Regions from separate parts of the Homo sapiens genome. Here all the other regions are linked to region 3. Evidence: fine-mapped expression QTL. A gene starts in region 3. Each other region holds a variant in brackets. All regions are shown on one strand. Distances are between the middles of the regions.

Region 1 (5,154 bases), 48 kb before region 3:
GATGCCCTCAAGATGTGCATGACCATGGAATGGGAGACTGGAGGGACACTTGGATTAAAACCTTGGACCGGGTTCGCCCAGTATGAGCCATGAGCCAGCTGAACCTGAATGCAAAGAAGGAATGAAGACCGACTAGAGTCATGCATGCTTAATGGACCAATGCGTCCTGACTCAGCTCTTTTCTACCTGAATACAAGAGACCCTAATAGTTAGGCAGGAATATCATCACCTCTATTCAGCATGAAGTTACAGAAGATAGACCTTCATCCTTCTGTAACCCCTAGGATTAAGGGTCCTCTTGTAAAAGGGAAAGGGGAGATATGTGGGAAGCATTCAAACCAGAGTGACTCCAGTTTGAATAAGGGCTAAGAAAAATGAAGCTGGATGACCAACTGGCAATTCAAGCCTTCACAGCCTGCAATTGCCTTCTCAATTAAAAGAGGCCAACTTTTATGCTACTAATTACGATATCTAGTAATAATGATAGTAATAATGACATTTCTCTTTTACAAAAAAGAGAAAGGGGGCATGTTGGGAAAAAGCTGAATATTGGGAAGAAAACTGAGGCAGGGCTTGCATGTCTGACATAATGTCCTCTGGAATGTGTCTAGACTTTCTGGCTCCTTGCTTCTAGCCTTCCTAGTCTCCTAGATCCATTGTATTCCCATTATCACAAGTAGCAGAACACGTTCCTTATAAATGCTAAACTATCACAGCTGTTCATCATGCACCTGCCCTTTTGACCTCCTCATTCTCACCACCTGTTCCTTTGTTGGATTACCAATAAATAGCATGGGCTCCCAGAGCTCAGGAACTTTGCAGCCTCCACAGTCGCGATGGCCCCCTGCTCCCACTTTACTTCTCAAATTGTCTTTTTCTCAATCCTTTGACTCTGCCGGACTTCATTACCCCCACCACCTGGTGTTGGGCCTGATAACCCCAACATTTCTATGCCTTTCTCATATCCAGGAGAGACTGAGAATCTGACAACTTTAAAAGTCTGAAAAGAAACATTTACCATCTATTCTCTCTGAAGGAGTCTTCATGTACCTAACAAGGCCAGCTTTGCTAGCTAATATTCTTCTTTTCTCTCTCTCTTAACCTTTCTTGCCACTCAACCTGATTTACCAACATAACCTGTTTCTGGCCATGCTCTCAGTCTGCATTCTTTACTGTAGCCTCAGGATGGTAATGTAAACCAAAAATGAAATTTTAAGCAGCCCCAGCCAACAGAATGGACCCCTCCTCTCAGTCAATTGCATTCCAAAGTTATCCTAAGACAAGAGGTCAGGCCATGATGGAAATGGGTGGTTGGATGTACCTCATTATACCCTCCTTCCTTTGGAATTCAGGCAAAACTAACCAGCATTAACATTAAAACAGAGACCTTAAGATAATTTATTATCTCTGAAGCCTGCACCTGGAAGCTTCATCTGCATAATAAAAACTTTTATTTCTACAATCCTTTATCCTAACCCTCTCTTTTATTGATTCCAGGTCTTTAGATAAACTCAACCAACTGCCAATCAGAAAATCCTTCTATGACCTGGAAGCCTCTGCTTTGAGTTGTTCCACCTTTCTGGACCAAACCAATATACACCTTACGTGTATTAATTGATGTCTTATGTTTCCCTAAAAATATAAAACCAAGCTGTAGACCAATCACCTTGGGCACATGTTCTCAAGATCTGCTGAGGCTGTGTCACAGGCATGTCTTTAACCTTGGCAAAATAACCTCTAAATTGATTGAGACTTATCTCAGTATTGGTTTGTAGTATGAAAATTTCTGTAAATCCTCGAGAAGTTGGGGTTTCATTCTGAAGGCTCCCATGTATACATGTTAAATAAATTTGCAATCTTTCTCTCCTGTTAATCAATCTGGCTCATGTCAGTGATTTTATAGTGAACCTTTAGGGGTCCAAGAGCCTATGGCCCTCACAGAATGTTGGTAGTGAGGACAAAGCTCTGTTTTATTTTATTTTATTTTATTTTAATCTTGCCCAAATTCCTACCTAAAGGGTCTAGGGAGTCATGCCCTACAAACCATAAATTCTCATCAGATGGGTTTTATTTAACCCTTTATATCATGACTTACTTTCCAATCTGACTCTGGCATACCATTATGAGACAAGGAAGAAAATCAAAATATTTTACCCCTGAACATATTTCTCTGCCATATCTTGAAACTGCCCTGCAAAGTCCCTTGTGGGAAAAGTCCACATTCTATAGAGAATCCCCTTTCCCATTTGTTTTCCTTCTTTCCTTTCCAGATCCAGGAGATAATAAACTAAGAGCCAGGCACTCTTTTAAATCCAGTAAGAAGCATTTTACAACCTGTTCTCTCTCTCTCTCTCTGATGTCTGGTATCTGACAGATTCCTCTGCACAATAAAACTTGGTCTCCACAAACCTTTATCTTAACCTGAAC[T/A]TTTCCTTTGATCCCAGGTCTTCAGATAAACTTAACCAATTGTCAATGAGAAAATGTTTAAATTTACCTATAGCCCGGAAGCCCCCACTTTGAGTTGTCCTGCCTTTCTGAACCAAACCAATGTATTTCTTAAATGTATTTGATTGATGTCTCATGCCTCCCTCAAATATACAAAACCAAGCTGCATCCTGACCACCTTGGGCGTATGTTCTCAGGACCTCCTGAGGGCTGTGTCACAGGCCATGGTCGCTCATATTTAGCTCAGAATAAATCTTTAAACATATTTTACAGAGATTCACTCTTTGTCAACAATAGTTTGGTGCCCAAACACGTGGGGCCTCAGAGAAGACTCAGGACCTTGAAGGAGTTGCCCAAACTTGGAGCTAAGGTACCAGCAGGGCCCACTGAAGCCTATTCTTTTGAGCTTCTCCTCTGGTGGAACTGGTAAGTCCTCCTGAACCCCAGACTTCCCTTTGGTTGACAGTCCTTGATTTATTCTGAGTTGGTTTTCTCCTAGGTAGTTGTTGTTTCAGGATCCTTATTCTAGTTCCGAGATGCATTCTAAATGGAATTCTCTCCTGCATTTTCTGCTAAAATTTATCTTGATTTGGTTCATCTCAGTGCATTTGCATGAGGAACTGAAGTGTCGTTTTCACAGATAAATGAGAGACTGAGTTTTTCTGCTCCAAAGAGAAAGGTCATTTGCTTCTCCTAGTCAAAAAGGTGCCCCTGGGTGATCAGGGGACTCGTGGGAGTGTCTGGGAGCTTGACCCCCCACAACGTGCAGCGGCCCTACAGGGAAATCCCCAACAAAAATTAATTTAAAATTGCTCATCCAGGAAGTGCATATAAAGGCTGATTACCCAGCATTTTGAGCCCTCTCAGAGGTCATAGACCTCTGGAGAGAGAAACCCAGACACCTAGGAGGTGGGAAGGACTCTGTAGTGATACACGGTGGAGTCCTGCCCACAAGCAGCATGCACTGATCCACCACACAAAAGCCCTAGGCTACAGCTCAGTTCCTCCTCTTAAGAAAAAAAAAAAAAGCAGGAAACAAAATCTAAGAATAAGGAGTAAACAAGGAGAATGAGAATGACCCTCTTTTGGGCACTCTGTAGGTTTTATGGCACCTCCACTTGCCAGAGTTTATATAAAATGGAAGTAATATGGTCTTTGTGCACATTTACATTAAGGAAGAAGATTCCTAAGGTCGACCTGCAGACTATAGAGTACATAGCTTCTATTTTCTTGTCTGCCTGCTTTAAAGCTGCTGTTACTTTTCTACTGAGATAAAAACCACCATTTGGATCTAACCGCTTTTTGCAAGCTGGCAAAGTTGTATTTATCCCATGGCTAAAGTACTGAAGTAATAGCTATGGGAACTTTTTGTGTGTGTGTGCATGTGTGTGCCTATTTAAAGCCTTCTATAATTTTATGTTCAATTGGCAGTTGAATTAATTTCCCTCTAGCATACCAGACTTTCTCTTCATACCTTATGATGTAAATTTTGCTATCTGATTTCACCTGAGTTGCCTTTAATATGCAAATTTAAGACGATTTAGCTGACAACTGCCTAGGGTAAGATTTTTTTAAATGGCAAAAACAAAAAGATCTTTATGAGTCTATGTGATGTGCTTCTACCAGCATGCCTAATACATGTATATATTTATGTGTGTGTATACAATATTTTCATGACTAAAAATATATGAAGAGGCTGGGCCCAGTGGCTCATGCCTGCAATCCCAGCACTTCAGGAGGCCGAGGTGGGCACATTACCTGAGGTCAGGACTTCAAGACCAGCTTGGTCAACACAGTGAATCCCCATCTCTACTAAAAGTACAAAAATTAGCTGGGCATGGTGGCACATGCCTGCAATCCCAGCTACTCCAGAGGCTGAGGCAGGAGAACTGCTTAAGCCCGGGAGACGGAGGTTGCAGTGAGCTGAGATTGTGCCACTCTAGCCTGCCTGACTGAGCAAGACTGTCTCAAAAAAACAAATAAATAAAATAAAATAAAATACTATATATATACACACAAACACACATATGAAGAGCTCTAATTAATTGGCTTTAAAAAGTGCTTAAATCAGATACTAAACAAAAAAAACTAGTCAAATGCTTTTTCAAGTTCATGTGACTTAAGTAAAATCTTTACTAAATAAGATTTTATTTTAGTAAGTATCTAGCCAGCTTTAAAATTATTGGTAAAATAATATCAGCAATGTCTTTAGAATTGTTAGAATTTTTTTTGCATCTATTGATCAAATGGTTTCATGTTTATTCCCACAGAATACTATAAAATTTGCCATAAGTGTTATAAACTATAAAATCCAGCCCAAGACAGAGTGATCTTTGATTGTATATGCTTATGAAATATTGTTGGCTTAAATGAAAACAGCTAAATACTGAATTATTGGTATAAATATCCTTAAAACTAACCATAAGTTTTATTACTTAAGTAAACACCTCAAATTCACAGCTATAAAAATCGTTAATAGAAAAATAACTTAAAATATTGGCTATCAATTTTTTGCAAATAACCTAGGTAAACTACTAAATTAATCAGGTACATGTAATGGAATAAATGCTTGTAAACACACTTGTCATAATTTAGGATTTAAGGTTATTATTTGATATTAAGTTTCTGGGTAATTTCCAATTTAAGAAATTTTTTAACATTCTTATTAAGGTAAAATATCTTTGTCTAATTAAAACCTTATTTAAGGGT
Region 2 (5,154 bases), 59 kb before region 3:
ATGAAAGTGTCTTTAGAGAAAGGAGATGAAGTCTGAAATCAATTTCAGGGTCTGGTCATCCTTCCATGGCCAATATTGGGAGCTAAGATTTTCCTCTTTGTGGCCATTCCTATCCTGGGAGGGCCATTGCTTATTTGATCAGGAGTTTCAGCAGGTTTCCTTGTAATCCATCTCAGTTTTCTATAATCTCTGGTTTTTACTTTTTTTTAATCCTAAACCTACCATTTATTTGATGTGCAGAAGATGTGCAGGGCTTTTAATCTGCAGCTTTTCTCTCTGTAAAATGGGATAATAGAGTTCCCTGGAGGCTCAGCGAGGATAAGTGATTTGTTTACACTCTGTTGTTGGTAAGTGAGATGGTATTATTTGAATCCAGTCAAAGCCTATATTCTTGACTACAGTAGATCATTGAAACCCAAGTCTGATGGTTCTGAAGCCAGTCTTCATTCTACCCCAACATCCCAAAAGTTCCAGGTGGGTTCAGACAGGAAAGGATGGGAGAATGCACGGTGAGCTTCGAGTTGAATGAAAACTCATTCATTTCATTGAGTTAGAGCAAATAAAAGAGGACTTGAAGAAGCCTCAGGATGCAGAGCTCCCTGTTGGGATCCTTGGGGCCAGGATGGGGGCAGATGGGGGGTCATTACCTCATAGCACATGAAGAGGCTCACAGGCCTGACAGGTTTGATTCTGATGCCAATGTTTCCTTCTGTGTTAGGTGGCAGGATGCTGCCCTTGTCATCAATGACCTGTAGCAAGAGGCCTGTGAATCATACACTGCAGGAGGCCGCAGCCCTTCTGCCCCACCCAAGCACTGTCTGGTTTATGCATGGGACACCAGTGTGGATGAAATAACAGAGGAAACATCAGAAAATGGAATAAAACTGTCAAAAGCCTTTAAAATACGCAAATGTGAAACTCAAGCCAAGGGTCTATGTTTCATGAGTTAGTAGATGTCACCAATGTGTCTTCAAGTTGGAAAACAGTGATCAAAAAAAATGAAAAGCACCACTTGCTAGAGAGGGCTCCCAGTGCAGCCTCTAGGTATTCTTTCCTACCTACTGTGTGTGATGCCCTGGCTGCCAGGGTCAGCGGTGTTCATGCTCACAATAATGCAGTTTTCAACTGAGGCCTCCATATGAAACTGAAGGGATAAATGAGAAGAGAGGAGGAAGGATGACTGGAGCAGGGAAGTGCGGCTGGTGTTGTCACCTGGTGTCAAATTGTCCAACCCCCGCTGAGCCCTAACTGCTCCCTGCCAATGCCCTTAGGACCAGACCTGGACGTCGTAGGGTGGAGTGGCCTTCCCCATGAAACCCGGCTTGATCTTCATTCCCCAGTAGGTGGCACAAATTAGTCCCTGTTCACAAAAGAAAGAAGATTTGGGTTGATCAGAGAGGCCAGGCTGATCACAAAGCAGTCAGAATCATACACAGCATCCTCTGCTCAGAGATGTAGTATTCCTCTCAATGGATGCTGCCCAAAGAGCCCTCGTAGGGAAGCTGGAAGGCCTTAGTCTAGGCTCAAGGTGTTGACCCAACTCTATTCCACAGTCATTTTCTGCAGCCAGTGTGGTCTGGCTCTGTACTAAGTGGAGTCTACAGAATCCAATGGGGAAACAAAGAAAGAAGAAACAGGGTATTCCCCTGGCTGTGGGCATATAATGTGGGGTGTGGCATGCCCACCATTGAACAGGCATGTGTCAGTTTGCTAGGGGAAGACCACTAGTCTATCTAACAAACATTTACTTGGGGCTGTTGAGCAGTGATAGGGATTCTGCCACAACTTCTTGACTGATCCTGATGCCAACTTTTCCCCCTGTGTTGGGTGGCAGAATGTTGCCTTTGTCATCAGTGATCCGTAGGAAGAGGCCTGTGAATCTCACCCTGCAGGATGCCCCAGTGTGTGTGGAGGTTGTCTGGATTGCTTGTGCTGTTCTCTCTGTTAGCACTGCCCTATCTTCATCTTTCTTCCTGATGAACTTGATTCCTCCTTTATTGTTCTCACAAATATATTTATTTCTGTAGCTGCGTGCTTTACATTCAGACCAATGAGGGTTTGACCCTTGACTCCACCACACACTAAATGCATGCCAATGAATCCCTCTTGATCTCCTCCATCAAAGGGTAATAATGATAACACTTACCTCCCAGAGTGCTTGTAAGCATATGGAAAATTCTGCATAATACAAGGCACACACCACGTGTTCAATGAATGATGACTACTGGCTATTACTCAAGCTACAAGAGAAGTCAAGGGAAAGATTCTCTTTCTGCAGCATTTCTCCTATACTTCCATTGCAGCCCACAGGGCATTATAATTATTTTTGTTTGTCTGTTTCCTTCAGTAGATAATGAGCATCCCAAGAATAGAGACTGCCCTATTTATCCCTGAGCTTCCAAAATCTGGAACAATAGCCACCAAAAATAGCAAGGACCACAGCAGCTGCAAGGTGAGCATATACAACAGG[C/T]GGGACACCAGCCAGAGCATTATATACTTCTTTTTATTTACCTTATCACAATCTGTTAAGATTGGCATTATAATTTCCATTTAAAGGTGGGGGAGCTGAGGTGAGAAAGCATACATAATATCCTTATGGTCTTCAAGCTGTAATTGGCAGAGCTGAGACTTGGACCCAGGTCTGTGCTCCTGGGATAGGAAGATCTTTGCCCACTGCCACATCACTGCTCACACTGTAGGCATGTGAAAAACGTTGCACACATGAGTGAACAGATGTGAAAGTGTTTTCAGAAATTAAGCACCACCTAGTGCTGCAAATATTGGAGTCGTGGGTGGAGTGTGTCTTCCTGGCCCACCCTCCTCCTTGTCCAAATATGACCTGTGAGCCATTCAAACATAGGCCCGAAGTGTCAGCATTTTTCAGGTCTGGAAGCAGACAAATTAACTGAATTGCTATATATTTTTTACAAAATAATGTCAGCTGAGTATGTGAGTTGGCACTAAAGTAATAATTTTGCACAGGGCCTGGGATAGCAGTCATCCTTTATGTGCTAGAGGGATAATGGAGACAGAGGGAGAAAGTGGCTCTGTCCAGCATTGGAAATGGATTGCAAATATGTTGGAAGAGATGCTCACCCACACTGTAATTGATGAGGTCCTTGAACTTCCAGACATGCATAGTACTCCAAATGCCCCACTCACCTGGCAGCTCAGTGATACTCTGGAATGACACTGTTTGTGTGTACATGTGTTTGGCATATACAGAAAGTCCCTGCTCCTCACCCACCCTGCTAGTATCCCACAGTCAAACCTGCGAGTTGTCCTCCTAAACCCCAAGCAATGCACTTTTTGAGCCAGCTTCCTCCTGCCTCTGCAGCCCTAGGGAGGGTTAGTGGAGTTGACAGGACTTCCTGGAGGAGGTGGTCTCCATGTTGCTGGAGAGAGTCTCCTATCCCACCCACCCTCTGGGGATCCTCTGAGCTGATGATAACAGGGACAGTGTGAAAACGCCCTTAGACCCCTTTTTAAGGTTTTGTCCAAGAGTTTTAAGCACATTAGTCCCTTGGTAAGATGACGAGTTGTACATTTTCTTTCTGCAGATAGATTTGGGACAAATTAGCCTAGAACTCTAGAGCCTCTGGTTGGCATCAAACAATGCTGTGCATGCGATGGGGCTGTGTCCCGCACATGTGGCATAATTCAGCACATCTGCTGGGCTCAATCGCTGAGCACATCATGACTATCCAGAAGGGACCTTTCCACTATGAAAGGAAAACAAACCCCAAAATCACTAAGCCAAAGGGAAAACTCAAGTTGGGAACTGCATCAGTCAAACCTGCCTCTCATTTTATTCCTAAACAAGAGCTAAAAAGATAAAAAACAAAACAAAACTACATGCCTCCGCCACAATTTTCCCACTAAGAAATTCCTTGTGGGCCCCAAGATCGTTACTGTCAAACAGTTCTGCTAAATTTCACCCTGACATTTATAGCTCATCTTCACACGTATAGGACAAAGAACAGAACTCAAAAATCATCTCTCTGCTCACCTGAGACAAATATGTACCTAGTTGCTTTCTCTGACTTACGTTTATCTTATGTAAAAATGCAGATTCACTGATCTAGATGAATGCACAAGTGACTCTTCCTCTACCCTTCTCTCACATGTAAACAGCTGATCAAAGACTCACAAGAAGGCAACAATTTGCCTCGTAACTACCCCACCTTTAGAAAATTTCTTCCTTTTTCCCCAATATCTGCCTTTTCTCCTTTAAATATTGAAGCCCTCAAAATCATCTTTGGGGAAAGGCACAAACCTGTTTCCCAGATGCGTGTCATTAACCTTAGCAAAATAATCTTTTAAATTAATTGAGACCTGTCTCAGACACTTTCTGGTTTGCACCACCTACCGTTTCCGACTGCCCATAGTTCTCGTAGAGCAGAAGGCCCGTCCGTCTTTTCCACTCCTCCTGATCCTTGGGCAACACGACCTCCCCGCCAGTATAGCAGTGCTCCAGGGCAGGGAACCTGATGCTTAGAGGAAGACAAGGTGCCAGGCATTGGTGAGCCACCCTGGCTCTGTGCATTCAGAGCTCTTAAGTCTGTCACCCAGATCATTCATCCTTCTAGTTCCTCACTTTCTTATTTACTTTTTGGTCATTTTACAGTTGGCCATGGCCAAGTGGATGTCACTCACTTCCTGCCAGTCCCTGCGAACTATTCTGGCAGACGGTGGATGGGTGGTGGTGAGGCTATTGTGTTCAATTGGGAATGTTTGGATTAAATTTGGATATCAGTGTAACAAGAGGGAGAACTGTGTGTTTATCAGAACTCCTCTTGGGGAAGCATTCTGTATAGCTAAGAAGGACATTTTTATAATCATAATGGGGTAAAGGATGAGATCTTAAGGACATGCTAGGGTGATAATAGAACTATACATTCTTTTATGGAGCTTACACTACGCTAACTAAAGGGCTTTTGTATTTCTGAATGGGGAATGCATGTTAGGGATTGGAAGTGAATTGCTCAGGACATCAGAGCAGATTAAGCTGAGTAGGGAAAGAGAGAGGGAGAAGCATTACAGGGTACAGCCCTGACAGAAGGAATTTCAGAGAAAACAGAAAAGGCTGATGTGAACAGGAAAAAATAAAATATTTTACCCCAAAATATATTTCTTTGACATATTTTGAAATGG
Region 3 (5,154 bases):
CTATCTATTACCTATCTATTATCTATCTATCATCTATTTATCTATCTATTACCTATCTATTATGTATCTATCGTCTATCTATCTACCTATTACCTATTTTCTATCTATCTATCATCTATCTATCTATCTATCTATCTAGATATATAAGAACCTGATCTCCAAGTGTTGAGGACTGAAAATCAGATATCTATATGTCTATGTCTGCGTCTATCTCTATCTCTGTATGTATGTTAAGCTTCATTTCTAAATCTATTTCTGTATCTATATACCAATATTTACATTTATACCTATATCACTATCTGTGTATATCTATACATTAATATTAATGTCTATAACAATAACACATGTACACTGTAGTCATGTGCCACAATATGATGTCATTGTCAGTGATGGATCACATATACAGAGTGGCCCATACAATTATAATGACATATTTCTACTGTACCTTTTCTATGTTTCAATACACAAGTACTTACCATCGTGTCATGACTGCCTACAGTATTTAATACAGCAACAAGCTACATAGGTTTGTAGCCTAGAAGCAATGGGCTATAGCATATCGCCTATATGTGTAGAAGACTATGCTTTGTGGGTTTGTGTAAGTACACTCTATGAGTTCCCATAATAACAAAATCACCTAACAATGCATTTCTCAGACGTATCTTGGTTGTTAAGTGATGCATGTCTCTATCTCTATCACTATCTCTGTCTCTATCTCTATCTCCGTCTCTGTCTCTGTTTCGATATCTATTTCCATCCACATCTGTCTTCAGATTTGACTTCACAAAGCTTAGTTTGTCTATTTCTCACCGTGCTGGACATAGTAAGTGCTCAACAAAAAGTTAGATTCTTCCCTTCTTTGTCATAATTCAGAAAACTGAGTGATGAAAGTCAGAAAGAGAAAAGCCAGTGTGCCCACAAATTATCTGAGTTATAGAAAAATGTATTTTTTCTTTCTCAAGTATTTACTATAGATGTACCATGTACAGTTTTAGATACTATTGGAGATTAATTAAACTGAAAGAGTTCCTACCCTGTTAGAGCATATCATTAAAGCACATCCTATGAAATCATTTTAAAGAACAATTTTCTGAACTGCTTAAAGTGCATTCTGAAAGCAATTTGACATGGTAGCTTTGAGAGGCAGCTGGGCTCCCCACTGTATTCCCAGATACATAGTGCCTTGAACAGCTCCTGCAACTAAGCTTTGACTTCACAGGACTTGGGACTGATAAAGCTATTTAATGAAGCAACATACTTACTGTGTTATAGGGTATCCCAGAGTTACAGAGCCAGGGCTAGATGTTTGTCTCTGTTGTCTAGCAGCTGGGTCTTTGGTGCTGTTCATGTCTCTGAACTTAAGCGCACAGTAGTAATACCTTCTTCCCAGCTCCCCATAAGGATTAGTGTGATAATTTACTTGCTGGCACTGAATGAAGTGCACGGTAAGGACTCAATAAATGTTGAGGTACCTTTTAACTCCCAGCAAATTCTGAAGCCAACCCCCTCCCCATTAGATGTTAACCATTTTTTTTGAAACTGTCACCTGGACTGGAGTGCAGTGGTGTGATCATAGCTCACTGCAGCCTCAATCTCCTGGGCTACAGTCATCCTCCTGCCTCAGCCTTTCAAGTACCTGGGACCACAGGCATGTATTACTATGCTTGGATAATTTTTTTTAGAAGGCATTCACTTTATAGAAAGTGAGCCAACTTCTGCATAGATAGAAAAGATTTCCTTCAAACATTCATCTCTGACTTTGTGCCTGTCTCCCACGGCTCACCACATTCAGAGCTGCCTGACACTAAACCAGTCCCCATTTACATGCCAGCCACTGTGCTAAACATATTACATGTACGTTCCTATTTATTCCTCTCACCCAATATCACCATTGTCATTTTGCCTCTAAAATGAAGTGCCAAGAAGTTAAGTGACTTGCCCAAGGTCACTCAACTTAAAAGTAGCATTGCCAGAACTTAAAATTGGATTACACACACACACACACACACACACACACACACACACACACACACACACAGATAGAAGCTGACCTTCACCTCTGTCTTACCTGGTACTGTTTAGGACGTAGCTGAACTAGGTCCCTGGTAGGTATGGAAAAGGAGGTTGAGCTCTCTTTTGTAGGTTCAGTTCTCTCTGATCAGGTGATCCGCAGGATTGTGCACCCAGCAGAACTTGGCTTCTGGCCACAGCGAAGGGGGACCTTGAACAGAGAACTTGTTAGGAATTGGGTAATTCAGTAGGGGGAGGAGATGCTCAGGTAAAATAGGACAGAAACAATTACAGGCCTCCACGGAGAGATAATCACTTAGAAAACAAACCATGTGGGCCGGGCGCAGTGGCTCGCGCCTGTAATCCCAGCACATTGGGAGGCCGAGGCGGGCGGATCACGAGGTCAGGAGATGGAGACCATCCTGGCTAACACGGTGAAACCCCGTCTCTACTAAAAATACAAAAAATTAGCCGGGTGTGGTGGTGGGCGCCTGTAGTCCCAGCTACTCGGGAGGCTGAGGCAGGAGAATGGCGTGAACACGGGAGGCGGAGCTTGCAGTGAGCCGAGATCATGCCACTGCACTCCAGCCTGGGAGACAGAGACTCTGTCTCAAAAAAAAAAAAAAAAAGAAAAACAAACCACGTATACGAAGTCACCTCCAATTCCGGTGGCATGGCTAGGGGTGTGAATGAACTAGATCCAATGGTGCATTTTCACTAGTTCTCTGTGGCTAACCTGCTCCCCCTTCCCAGCCCTACATCACCATAGTCTCCCTTAAATGACAGCTGAGAGTCAGTGTAGCCTAATGGATAAGAGCCTGGGCTCTGGAGGTCTGGAGGCAGAAAGGTCTGAGTTTGAGCCTTAGGTCTGCCACTTAACCTCCATGTCATCTTTGTGGACCTTCTTGCTCTGGGCCTCACCTCCCTTAATTGGTTTTCGGTTGCTTTTGAGACAGAATCTCATGCTGTCACCCAGGCTGGAATGCAATGGCATGGTCTTGGCTCACTGCAACCTCCGCCTCCCAGGTTTAATTGAGTCTCTTGCCTCAGCCTCCCAAGTAGCTGGGATTATAGGTGCCCGCCACCACACCCAGTTAATTTTTGTATTTTTAATAGAGACAGGGTTTCATCATGTTGGCCAGGGTGGTCTTGAGCTCTTGACCTCAGGTGATCTGCCCGCCTCAGCCTCCTAAAGTGCTGGGATTACAGGCATGAGCCACAGCACCCAACACCTACCTTATTTGTAAAATAGGAATGATAACAACAATACCTACCTCCCAGGGTGTTTTCTTTGCTTCTTCATTTGTTTGTTAGAACTAGATGAAATAATTTATAAAAAGCATGTAGCACACGGTGCTGGGCATAGTCGATGTTGGCTCTTTTTATTCACTTGGGATTCTCAGAGGAACAATTTGGTATCCTGGTAAAATGCAGGGTCTTTGGAATCCCAAAGTCTTGAGCTTAATTAAGTCCAACCTCAGGCACTCACAAGAAAGCTCTTGGGTGAACCATTTTCCTTTCAAAGCTTGGTCTTGACATTTGTAAAATGAAGCAGGATTTGTTAATAAGATTTGTTGCATGGGATCATTGAAAGGATTATGTGACACCAAGCCTGTAAAGCACCTGGACCAGGCATTTAGATGGAGGGTTGATAGTGATATTGCATTGGATAAACCAAGGTAGTCATAGGTAGCGGCTTGTACTATGACTTTTCTACTGGAGCCATTTTTGGGGCATTGTTAGAGAATGAGGGATCTCCAGTATTTTCATTGAAGCTGGGAAGAAATTATTTCTGATCAAAGTCATGGCTAAAGATTTCTGGAGACACCCAGGACATTCCTGACAGGACCGTGTGGCAAGCTAGGATAGTTTGGGTTTTTAATATTTAGCTTTCTGTGGCCAGTCACTGGAGAGGTGAGAAGGCAGGGCTAGTTGACTGGCCATGGTAAGCTAAACCTTAAACACCCAAAGCATCAAAGTACCAAAAAACAAAGAAACGAACAAACAAAACAACTAACCAAAAAACCTCTGTTACTAAAGAGAAGGAGCAGCCACTTTTCGGAAAAGAATGGAGACGGGGGAAAAGCCCTTGACACACTCTCTGCATCTGAGTAGTTCTCCCCTGTGGAACTGCAACATGAAGGCATGGACAAGAAGACAGGCTCTGGCACCAGGCAGCCTGGGCTTGAGTCTAGCTTTTACCAGTTACCAGCTCTGTGACATTGAGCAGATTTCTTATCCCTCTTTTCCTCAATTTTCTCATCTTTAACAAGAGGTATACAGCGGACAAAGGAAAACTCTCCAAACATTCTATGTGTGCTCCTCTTTCATTTCCCAACCTCTCTTAAAGCTAAAGTGAGGCCATTAAACTCTAGTTCTGAACAATAAACTCCATGTGGAAGTGTTACAAGTCACTTCTGGCCTAGGGCATTTATTTAAGAGCAGGTATGAGTTTTCTGTACTCTCTTCCCCTGATTCAATGCTCCTGGAAACCATATATGGAGATAGTGACATCGTAAAATGGCAAAGTCTCTATCAGCCTTGTTCTCTGAGTGACTTCATGTAGCTAAATATCCTACCAACCTCAGCTTTTTGAACTTGCTATCGTCTGCTTATTATAGAAAACCTATGATACATTCATTCATTCAGTGGATATTTAAGGAACATTTAGGCGTGCTTTAAACATGTAAGACAAGGTTGGTGCTCTCAAGAGGTTTACATGCCTATGATAGAAAGGCAAAAGCCAATAAGCAAAAAGTCAATTAAATAAGCAAGAGGATTTCAAATGGTGATACTGCCAAAAAGAAAACAGAACAGGGCAATATGATGGAGAGAGTGTGGGGAGGTGGCTAAGGATGTTCTCCCTTAAGAGGTGACATTTTGAGACCTGAAGGAGGAGAAGCAGCCAGCTAGGGAAAAAGAACTCCAGGCAAAAGCCACAGCAAGTGCAAAGCCTGAGGCTGACATTTTCAAGGCATAGGTGGGGGACTGGGATGGCAGATTACTGAGTGAGAAGTATGATAAAGTGTGAGGTCAGAGACACAAGCAGGAGACATGCCATTAAGGATCTTTATGGACATAATAAGGAGTTTGGATTCTATTCTAAGTGCAATGGGTGGGTGCATGGAAGTCTCGTGAAGATTT
Region 4 (5,154 bases), 120 kb before region 3:
TCGGCCGGTCTGAGAAATAAAGAGAACGAGTACAAAGACAGAAATTTTACAGCTGGGCCTCTGGGGCTGTCATCACATAGTGGTAGGACTATGATGGTGACCCCGAGCAGCAAAACCAGCAAGTTTTTATTAGGGATTTTAAAAGAGGAGAGGGTGTACGAACAGGGAGTAGGTCACAAGGATCACATGCTTCAAAGGGCAGTAAAGATCACAAGGCAAAGGCAAAATTAGAATTACTGATGAGGGTCTATGTCCTGCTGTGCACACATTGTCTTGATAAACATCTTCACAGGAAACAGGGTTTGAGAACAGAGAACCACTCTGACTAGAATTTACCCGGCTGGAATTTCCCAATCCTAGTAAGCCTGAGGGTACTGCAGGACACCAGGGCGTATTTCAATCCTTATCTCAACCGCATAAGACAAACACTCCCAGAGCGGCCATCTATAGACCTACCCCCAGGAATGCATTCCTTCCCCAGGGTTCTTCCATGCTGGGAAAAGAATTCAGCAATATTTCTCCTACTTGCACATCCTTCTATAGGCTTTCTGCAAGAAGAAAAATATGGCTCTATTCTGCCCGACCCCGCAGGCAGTCAGACCTTATAGTTATCTTCCATTGTTCCCTGAAAATCACTGATATTCTGTTCTTTTTCCGGGTATACTGATTTCATATTGTTCAAACACACATGTTTTACAATCCATTTGTGCAATAGTAGTCCTGAGGTGAATTACATTCTGAGCTTATGAAGATAACAGGATTAAGAGATTAAAGTAAAGATAGGCATAAGAAACTATAAGAGTGTTAATTGGGAACGTGATAAATGTCCATGAAATCTTCACAATTTATGTTCAGAGATTGCAGTAAAGACAGGCATAAGAAATTATAAAAGTATTAATTTTGGGAAGTGATAAATATCCATGAAATCTTCACAATTTATGTTCTTCTGCCTCAGCTCTGGCCGATCCCTCCATTCAGGGTCCCTGACTTCCTGCAAAACAATCAATGCCCTCACTTTAACAGTAGATACTTGGCGAGGCTGTGCATGGTGAGGCTGTGCATGCACCTTTCATTGCAGGTCAGCCACTAACATGATAAGAGCTTATGTCTATTTTTCCACAATTTCAGTTCTTTCTCTACAGGAGATTAGACTCTCACTCAGGGCAATCTTGGCAGATTTGAGGCTCAGTATCTGCTTCTGAAGCTGGGAGATAGAATCCCCGAGTTCATCATTTTCTTTCATCACTTTATCCACTGAACTTAGGAGCAACCAACCAGCTTCATTATGTTCCTTAGTTCTCCACATATGGTCAAAGGTATGATGTATAGGGTCACTAAACTCCTTGCCTCTCATGAGCAATGAATCAGGAGTGTCAAATGCATTTATTTTGTATAACTCTTTAAACAGTTCACACCAAGGGCTATCAGTCTTCTCCATACTATTAGAATTAGAGTCCTTAGTATTTTGGGGTCTAATCATATTAAGGCACCAACTCCAGAAACCCCAAAACCAACAAAAGAACTCCATCCTTAATATTCTTTTCCTCTAGAACCACTTCTGGTACCAAAATCTGTATTAGTCAGGGTTCTCTAGAGAAACAGAACTAATGGAATATATATATTTTATAAACTCATATGTATAAGTAATACATATAAACTCATATATATAAGTATATATATGAGTTTACTAAGTATTAACATATGTATGTGTGTATATATATATACACAACTGTATATATATATACAGTTTATTCAGTATTAACTCACATGATCACAAGGTCCCACAATAGGCCATCTGCAGGCTGAGGTGCAAGGAGAGCCAGTTTGAGTTCCAAAACTGAAGAACCTGGAGTCTGATGTTCAAGGGCAGGAAGCATCCAGTACGGAAGAAAGATCTAGGCTGGGAAGCTAGGCCAGTCTCTCTTTTCATATTTTTCTGCCTCCTTATATTCTAGTCATGCTGGATTAGGTGGTGCCTACCCAGATTAAGGGTGGGTCTGCCTCTCCCAGCCCACCGACTCAAATGTTAATCTCTTTTGACAACACCCTCACAGACACACCCAGGATCAACACTTTGTATCCTTCAATTCAATCAATTGACACTCAGTATTAACCATCACAGTGTCTGA[C/G]ATTTCTGTCTCCTTTTTTTCTATGGAATAAGAATTGAAGATTACTGTACCAGCTCCTGAGCAGAACTACACATTGCCTTTGTACCTGCTGGTCCCTCTCTTTTTCCATAATAAGCTCTTCTTCATTCTTCTGGTCTCACCTCCTCTGGGATTCATCCTTCTCTGACCACCACCCAACTACCAGCCCCCTGTTACCACCTTTTTCCAGCTGCCCTCGTCTCTCCCTGTTGCTGCCATAAACGTGCCTTTTCCTCTGCCCAGTGTTTCCTCCTAAGACTTGGCAGGTACTGTCTTTCATGGTCCCTAGGAATTTCTGCTTTTCTGTGAGGATTTTTGCTCTTCTCACCAGCTGTGACTCTAAAAGATTGGTGAGGTTATCATGGATTATGACCCCATCAGCCCATTCCTTGAAACAGTGCTCACCTGCCAAGTCCTCTCAGGATGTCTTTCTGGAGAGAGCTTCGTCCACCCTCCTCTCCAGCCAGCAGCTCCAGAACTCCTACAGCCTTGGAAGAGAGCACAGTAACTCAAGCAGACAGCTTCAGAATCCCTGCACTGTCGGAAAGAGAGCTCAGCTAATCATTGACAGTGGATAACTTTGGAGTCTTACAAAGGGTAACAGCAGTCCTCCTAGCCAAGTTTATGGACATTACAACATTAGAGCATTTGAGGTCAACTGGACTTGCACTTTCAATCCAAGGGGCATGAAGCAGGTTTATGCCCAGGACTGACAGAAAATTATTGCTTCAACCCAAGAGAGAGAAATGGAGCTCACATAGGCTTGATGAACACTCCTTTAATTCTTTGTTTTGCTTGGTTCCAGCATACCACTTTTGCCTGGTTTTCCTCTTGCTTTCCTTCTCTTTTGCTGATTCCTCCTCATCTTTATCCACGTTCACTCTGTACATTATCTCATCAAATGTCATAGCTTGGATACCATGTGGCTTGCCAATGGCCCCCACACGTGTGTATCCAACCTGGTTTTCTCTCCTGCATCCTCATCTTCCTGACTTCTCCACCTGGATATCTAACAGGCATCTCAAACATACTTTGTCCAAAGCTAAGAGGTTGATCACATCCTTCCCTGGCCACTCTCATTCCAGGTATGGTTTTATCCATCTCAGCAAATGTCACCCCTATTCCTCTAGTTCTTCCAACATCAAATCTTAGAGACTGCCCTGACTCTTTTCTTTCTCACATGGATGTGAAAAAGCCATCAGATCCACCTGCAGGCTACACTCAGAGTCTGACCCATTCTCTTCCCTGTTCCAACCCAACCCAACACTGTCCAAGTAAGCCCAAAACTCAACAGGGAAAAAAACTCTTTATATCTCTTCATATTTATTTTATTTTGAAATAGTGTCTCACTTTGTTGCCCAGGCTGGAGTGCAGTAGTCTGATCACAGCTTATTGCAACCTCAATCTATCGTGCTCAAGCAACCATCCCACCTCAGCCTCCTGAGCAGCTGGGATTACAGGCACATGCCATTATGCCCAGCTAATTTTTTAACGTTTTATAGAGACGTGGTCTCACTATGTTCTCCAGGCTGGTCTTGAACTCCTGAACTTAAGTGATCCTCCCATCATGGCCTCCCAAAGATTACAGGCATGAGCCACCATGCATGGCCAACATTGTCTTATAGCTGGTATCAGCCCATGCTTCAGCTCTCTCAGGCTAGAGTTGCAAATTGGTGATCCTACAGTTCTGTGTCTTGGGGGTGGCCCCACTCCCATGGCTTCATGAGGCATTTCCCTAGAGGGAATTCTTTGTAGAGGATCTTACCACCAAGCATCTATGGCCCCTACATTCTGGGTGCCTGCAGAATTAATACCATTCTGTCTTTGTTAGTCTTCTGGGCCTGTGATGGGAGGAGCAGCCCCAAAGATTTCTGAAATGCCTTTGGAACCTTCTTCCTATTATCCTATTAGCACCAGGCCCCCTTTTGGTCATGCTTTAGCAGAGTTGTTCTGACACTTTCTTGGACTCCTCTCCTGAAAATTCTCTTTTCTTCTCTACCACTATGTGCAGGCTGATAATTATCCAAATTTTAATGCTCTTCTTCCCCTTTAATTATAAACACAGGCTTTAGGTCATTCCTTTGCTGTCACAATTTAACATAAGCTGTTAAAAGTAACCACATCACTTCTTGAGCACTTTGCTGCTTAGATATCTCTTGCATCTGACACCGTAGGTCATCACTCTTAGTTCAGCCTTCCACAAAGCCTTAGGGCATGGACACAGTGCACCCAAGTTCTTTGCTACAGAGTAACATGGGTGAATTTTGCTCCAGCTTCCAATGAGTTTCTCATTTCTATCTGAGATTTTTTGGCATGGCCTGTACTGTCTATATTTCTATCAGCATTGTAAAAAATTTAAATTTAGGACCTTCCAAATTTATCATGCAAAAGGGAAAACTTAAGGCCTGAAAGCTGACTGAGGTAACACAACTTCCCCTGATTCTGGTGCATGACCGTTGCTTTCTGACCTTTGTGTTGAGATGTTATACATTAACCAGACTCTTCTTTATTCAAAACTGCGCTAAACAAAGTGAAGATAGAGACCCTTGTGACTGTCTCCTTTTAATAGAATGTAAAACTATCCCTTTAGCGTGTAATCAAAAGTAGCCAATGAAATCTTATATCTGTATGTTAACCTTTTTTATGGAAAATGTTGTAATTTTGTTCAGCAACTTCATTTTGCTGGTATAAGCAATCCTCATTTTCCCCTACACCAGGAGCACAACACTGCTCACCATTCTTTGGAATAGCTGTGCTCCCTGGATGGCCGCACTCATACTTTGTGCTTGAATGAGCTCTTTTAACTAGATGCTGACTCTTTTGACTATTTTACGTTGACAGCATTTTGGTCACAACCATTTAACCAATCTCTAAGAAGTTTCAAACTTTCCCTCAACTCTTTGTCTTCTTCTGAGCCATCCAAACTCTTCCAACCTTTTCCATTGCCCAGTTCCAAAGCTGCTGTCATATTTTCAGGTATCTTTATAGCAATACCCTACTCCCTGGC

What was found. PIP is the estimated chance that this variant, and not a neighbour inherited with it, causes the effect. A credible set is the group of variants that fine-mapping cannot tell apart.
Region 1: its variant is the best candidate, but not a certain one, in a credible set for the expression of ACSM1 in whole blood (INTERVAL, PIP 0.65).
Region 2: its variant is the best candidate, but not a certain one, in a credible set for the expression of ACSM1 in whole blood (INTERVAL, PIP 0.64).
Region 4: its variant is the best candidate, but not a certain one, in a credible set for the expression of ACSM1 in tibial artery (GTEx, PIP 0.58).

Annotation. Positions count from the first base shown.
Region 1 is chr16:20,647,208-20,652,361 of GRCh38, forward strand. The region is part of intron 7 of ACSM1 (acyl-CoA synthetase medium chain family member 1); the gene reads right to left. Among named protein-coding and RNA genes, the nearest start is that of ACSM1, 48 kb to the right of the region's middle. RefSeq lists enhancers at 438-1,002, 3,641-4,244. The variant T/A (reference allele first, on the strand shown) is at 2,428.
Region 2 is chr16:20,636,092-20,641,245 of GRCh38, forward strand. ACSM1 (acyl-CoA synthetase medium chain family member 1) reads right to left here. Exons shown (of 14, transcript NM_001318890.3): 8 at 4,370-4,493; 9 at 1,280-1,360; 10 at 648-749. Among named protein-coding and RNA genes, the nearest start is that of ACSM1, 59 kb to the right of the region's middle. The variant C/T (reference allele first, on the strand shown) is at 2,471.
Region 3 is chr16:20,695,568-20,700,721 of GRCh38, forward strand. ACSM1 (acyl-CoA synthetase medium chain family member 1) reads right to left here and starts at 2,113. Exons shown (of 14, transcript NM_001318890.3): 1 at 2,069-2,113. It also overlaps a transcript of ACSM3 not described here.
Region 4 is chr16:20,573,655-20,578,808 of GRCh38, forward strand. It overlaps ACSM2B (acyl-CoA synthetase medium chain family member 2B), which reads right to left and starts at 2,713. Exons shown (of 14, transcript NM_001105069.2): 1 at 2,553-2,713. The variant C/G (reference allele first, on the strand shown) is at 2,130.